2 separate regions of the Homo sapiens genome follow, and region 1 is linked to region 2. A link means that fine-mapping ties the variant in region 2 to the expression of a gene that starts in the linked region. Tissue or cell type: whole blood. Region 2 holds a variant in brackets; the other region holds the start of a gene. All regions are shown on one strand. Distances are between the middles of the regions.

The links. PIP is the estimated chance that this variant, and not a neighbour inherited with it, causes the effect.
Region 1: it holds the start of NFKBIA, and the variant in region 2 is fine-mapped to the expression of NFKBIA in whole blood (INTERVAL, PIP above 0.99).

What each region holds. Positions count from the first base shown.
Region 1 is chr14:35,403,254-35,405,953 of GRCh38, reverse strand. NFKBIA (NFKB inhibitor alpha) reads left to right here and starts at 1,205. Exons shown (of 6, transcript NM_020529.3): 1 at 1,205-1,536; 2 at 2,156-2,264; 3 at 2,594-2,700. The coding sequence starts at 1,310. RefSeq lists enhancers at 744-1,143, 348-1,219, 2,324-2,373, 2,404-2,700 and silencers at 1,214-1,383, 1,534-2,123.
Region 2 is chr14:35,110,755-35,113,362 of GRCh38, reverse strand. The region is part of intron 2 of PPP2R3C (protein phosphatase 2 regulatory subunit B''gamma); the gene reads left to right. LOC101927178 (a long non-coding RNA gene) reads right to left here. Exons shown (of 5, transcript NR_110415.1): 5 at 233-499. Among named protein-coding and RNA genes, the nearest start is that of PRORP-PSMA6, 9.8 kb to the left of the region's middle. RefSeq lists an enhancer at 33-814. The variant G/A (reference allele first, on the strand shown) is at 1,421.

The sequences.
Region 1 (2,700 bases), 290 kb before region 2:
AGAGCATAAATTATATTTCTGCAGGTGAAACCAGAGCATAGTGAGCCGAAACCCCTTTCTACCCAGGTGGCGTGAATGGGTCCAACTGCTACTGTCCCCCAGGACAAGAGAGCAAGGAGGGGCGGGCAGGATGGGACTACCTTGAGCCTCCCGCAGGATGCCTGGCAACTACTTTCTTAGTGGTCCTTAAGGTCCAATCGCGGTTAAGGCACTAACTAAACTCATTCTTCAGCCTCCTTCTCTAAGTTCTCCTCGAATTTGGGTGCCCAGAAGTAGGCTCACGATCCTTTTTCTGCGGGAGCACAATGTAGGTCAGATAGCATAAACGAATAGCTACTTATGAACACAATAGCTACTCTGCTATTGCAAGGTATCCACAACCACCACTACAAACATTAACACCTTGCTTTACTTGGGAAACAAAAAAAATCATGGTCCTATTCAGCAGTTTCCCCATACAGGGAGCGTTTGCCCCTCCCCCAGTCAACAGGGCTGTTCATCCCTAGGAAGTGATTTGAGAGTTCTCCAAGGATTTAGGCTTTTCACTCCTCCAAAGCTTTCACAACTTCTACCTGGCGGGGGTGCGTGGGGGGGTGGGGGCGAAGCTAAAAGTTCCTTTGCTGCAAAGAGCCTGGTATAGGCAGAAACACCGGCGCGGCCTGCAGCCCCCTAACCACAGTGCGTCCTTCCCCTTAGAAGTCTGGGGAAAGCAAATCCCTACGCCCAGCCATCATTTCCACTCTTGCGTTTTCAAAAGATCAAAAAACGGAAAGGACCGGCAGGTTGGCAAACCCCAAAGAGGGACCGCCCATCAGGTCGGCGTCCTTGGGATCTCAGCAGCCGACGACCCCAATTCAAATCGATCGTGGGAAACCCCAGGGAAAGAAGGCTCACTTGCAGAGGGACAGGATTACAGGGTGCAGGCTGCAGGGAAGTACCGGGGGGAGGGGGCCTGGTCGGAAGGACTTTCCAGCCACTCGGCGCTCATCAAAAAGTTCCCTGTCCGTGACCCTAGTGGCTCATCGCAGGGAGTTTCTCCGATGAACCCCAGCTCAGGGTTTAGGCTTCTTTTTCCCCCTAGCAGAGGACGAAGCCAGTTCTCTTTTTCTGGTCTGACTGGCTTGGAAATTCCCCGAGCCTGACCCCGCCCCAGAGAAATCCCCAGCCAGCGTTTATAGGGCGCCGCGGCGGCGCTGCAGAGCCCACAGCAGTCCGTGCCGCCGTCCCGCCCGCCAGCGCCCCAGCGAGGAAGCAGCGCGCAGCCCGCGGCCCAGCGCACCCGCAGCAGCGCCCGCAGCTCGTCCGCGCCATGTTCCAGGCGGCCGAGCGCCCCCAGGAGTGGGCCATGGAGGGCCCCCGCGACGGGCTGAAGAAGGAGCGGCTACTGGACGACCGCCACGACAGCGGCCTGGACTCCATGAAAGACGAGGAGTACGAGCAGATGGTCAAGGAGCTGCAGGAGATCCGCCTCGAGCCGCAGGAGGTGCCGCGCGGCTCGGAGCCCTGGAAGCAGCAGCTCACCGAGGACGGGGACTCGTAAGTGGCGGAGGCCCGGGGCTGGGGGTCGTCGGGAGGGCGGGACGCGCGCGGCCTGGGGGTGGGAGGCGCCGGGCCTGGAGCCCGAGCCGGGGGACCAGCGATGCAGCCGGGCGGGCGCCGCGGCACCCCGGGGCTCCTGCACCGCCCCGAACGCTGCAGGGCTGCAGGGCCGCGCGGGGCACCGGCCCAACTCGGAGGGGCGGCGGCTGGGCCCTGGTGGATGGCAGCGTCGCCACACGCCCCCTCCCCCCAGACCCGTCCTCTAGGCCGGGGGCGGGGCGGCAGCGGGGACGCGAAGTCCCCGGTTGCATAAGGCGGGGCGGGAGTTTCTGGCCGCTGGCGGGCGCCGAGCAGCCGGGAGGGGAAGTACAGGGCGTTCCGAGCTGGCGGGAGGGCGGGGCGGTCTGGCCGGCGCCCGCCGGGGCCGCGGGGGGAGGGGGGCGGAAAGTCCCTGGGCGCCTGCCAGGAACACTCAGCTCATAATAACCTCGCGGAAAACACCGCGGCCTCGGCCTCCAGAAACCCCGGCCTTGCGCAATCCCCCGCAGCCCGCGCCTCCCTGGGCCCCACGCGGTGCACTCACCACCCCTGGGGTTTTTCCCTCTCTTCCCCACAGGTTCCTGCACTTGGCCATCATCCATGAAGAAAAGGCACTGACCATGGAAGTGATCCGCCAGGTGAAGGGAGACCTGGCCTTCCTCAACTTCCAGAACAACCTGCAGCAGGTGCGCCGCTTGCCTGGCCCGGGTTCTCTCTGACCCTGGGACGTAGCTGATGTAGCAGAGTCACCCCAGATCCTTTCTGAATTCAGGGCCACTGAGCACTATTTACCCTCACCTTTTACTTCACATCAGCCCACATCCTAGAGAGTGAAGGAAATTCCACTGATTTGGTGAGGTCTTTATGACCCACCTGGAGCCTCTGCTATTTGCCAGCCCTCCCCACCCCCCTGTCTAGGAGGAGCAGCACCCAACCAGGAGACACGGGTTGAGGGGAACTCGGGGTGTGGGTTTGGTCCATGGCTTACTTTCTCTGGTCTCTCTTGCATTCGTAGACTCCACTCCACTTGGCTGTGATCACCAACCAGCCAGAAATTGCTGAGGCACTTCTGGGAGCTGGCTGTGATCCTGAGCTCCGAGACTTTCGAGGAAATACCCCCCT
Region 2 (2,608 bases):
GGTCTCCTGTCTGCAGCTATGGATTTGTAAAAAAGTCCTTTCCCTTCTTTCTTCTTCCTCTCCATGGTCCCACTGCTTCAGAGAAAACACCTATTATCTTGAGTCACCACTTCTCTCCTTGGCTGATTAGCTGGTTAACTAGCCACTAGAACACAATGTCAGTCACCCCCAACTCCAGCCCCATCCCCATCTCCTAATGTTTCTTCTGTTGACGAAGAGTTGAACTCTGTAAAATATTTGAAGAGATTTATTCTGAGCCAAATATGAGTGGCCATGGCCTGTGACACAGCCTTCAAGAGATCCTGAGAACATGTACCAAAGGTGGTTTGGGTGCAGCTTGGTTTCATACATTTTAGGGAGGCATGAGACATCAATCAAATACATTTGAGAAATACATTGGTTTGATCCAGAAAGGTGGGACAATTTGAAGTGGGGCTTCCAGGCTACAGGTAAATTCAAATGTTTTCTGGTTGACACTTGGCTGAGTTTGTCTAAAGACCTGGGATCAAACAGAAAGGAATGTCTGGGTTAAGATAAGAGGCTGTAGCGACCAAGGTTTTATCATGCAGATGAAGCTTTTAGCTAGCAGGCTTCAGAGAGAATAGGTTGCAAAATGTTTCTTATTAGACTTAAAGTCTGTGTTGATGTTAATGCCAGAGAGGTATAACGAGGCATGTTTGACCCCCACTTCCCATCATGCCCTGAAACAGTCTCTCAGGTTAAATTTTAAGGGCGCTGACTGAGGAGGAAGTCCATTCAGATGGTTGGGGGGCCTTAGAATTTTATTTTTGGTTTATACTCCTTTAACTCTGTTCCTTCTGATGGGAGGGATGGCATCTTAGTTCCTGGAAATGAAAGATGAAAACCATAACCCCAAGTTTTGACGTAAGGTTTACCGAGGTAATTTAATGGGGCTAAGATGTAGAAAAGGAAGAAGAACTCTTTAAAGTAAATTATTCTGGCTGGGTGTGGTGGCTCATGCCTGTAATCCTAGCACTTTGGGAGGCCAAGGTGGGAGGACTGCTTGAGTCCAGGACTTCAAGACCAACCTGGGCAACATAGCAAGACCCTGCCTCTATTATTAATTTAAAAAAGAAGAAATAAAGCAAATTGTTCTAAGTCAGGTTGGAATGAATCATTCTAAAGCTCTGCTCATGGAAATCACCCCAGTTGGCAAACCCTCTTGCCTGGGAGGCCAACATAATAGGCACTGCCTTGACTGTCTCCAAGAAGAAAGGTGATCCAATCTCAACAGGCATGCTTTCCTAAAACTGGACAAGAAGAATAAATGGTTTTTGCTGGACAGGAAGAATTACAGGTAAGAACCACCCAACAGGTTCTTCTTGCCTGCTACCCAGATAGAGCCAATTTATCAAGATGGGAATTGCAAGAGAGAAATAATTTCATATACATGGAGACA[G/A]CTAAATGGGAGACAGGAGTTTTATTATTACTCAAATCAGCCTTCTTGAAAAGTTGGAGGCTAGGGTTTTTCAAGGATAGTTTGGTAGGCAGGGGCTAGGGAATGGGTACTGCTGATTGGTTGGGGATGGAATCACAGGGATATAGAAAAACAGTCCTGGTCCTTGCGTGCTGAGTCTGCTTCTGGGTTGGGGCCACAGAGGAGTGGCTGGTCTGAGAGGGGCCATTGGGTAGTCAGAAGTGCAAAAGCCTGAAAAGACATCTCAAAAGGCCAGTCCTGTGTACTACAATAGTGATGTTATTTACAGGAGTAATTGAGGATGTTGCAAATTTTTGTGCCCTCTGGAATAATAACTGCTAATCATTTAACTGACCTGCATCTTAGCAGAATTCTGGTCCTTCGCATCCTCCTGACCTGGTGTCCTTTCATTAGTTTTACAAAGGCAGTTTAGTTTTGGGATGAGCTATTATCATTTAAATCATAAACTAAATTTCTCCCAAATTTATTAATATCTTGGCCCATGCCCAGGAATGACCAAGGGCAGATTGGAGGTTAAAAACAAGATGGAGTTGGTTAGGTCAGATCTCTTTCACTGTCATCATTTTGTCACTGTTATAATTTTGCAAAGGTGGTTTTGAAATTGTCAATCTCCAGTTAATCCTCATTTAATTCTTCTATATCATTCTTTTTTTTTTTTTTTTTTTTTTGGTAGATGGAGTCTCGCTCTGTTGCCAGGCTGGAGTGTAGTGGCGTGATCTCAGCTCACTGCAACCTCCGCCTCCTGGGTTTAAGCAATTCTCCTGCCTCAGCCTCCTGAGTAGCTGGGACTACAGGCACATGCCACCATGCCCAGCTAATTTTTGTATTTTTAGTAGAGACGGGGTTGCACAGTGTTGGCCAGGATGGTCGATCTCTTGACTTCATGATCCGCCTGCCTCGGCCACCCAAAGTGCTGGGATTACGGGTGTGAGCCACTGCCCCCAGCCAATTCTATATCATTCTAAGGAAGCCAGCATGCCCAGCCAATTCTGTGTCATTCTAAGGTGACAATAGAAACACAGTGCTTTAAGAAAATAAAATGAAACTTGGTCTAGACTAGCTTTTAGAATGGCTTTTTCAGGGCAGAGATCCAGCCTTTCTGATCACCGATTCTCTGTGGATCAGTTTTTGTTAAACAAATGTTAAGCA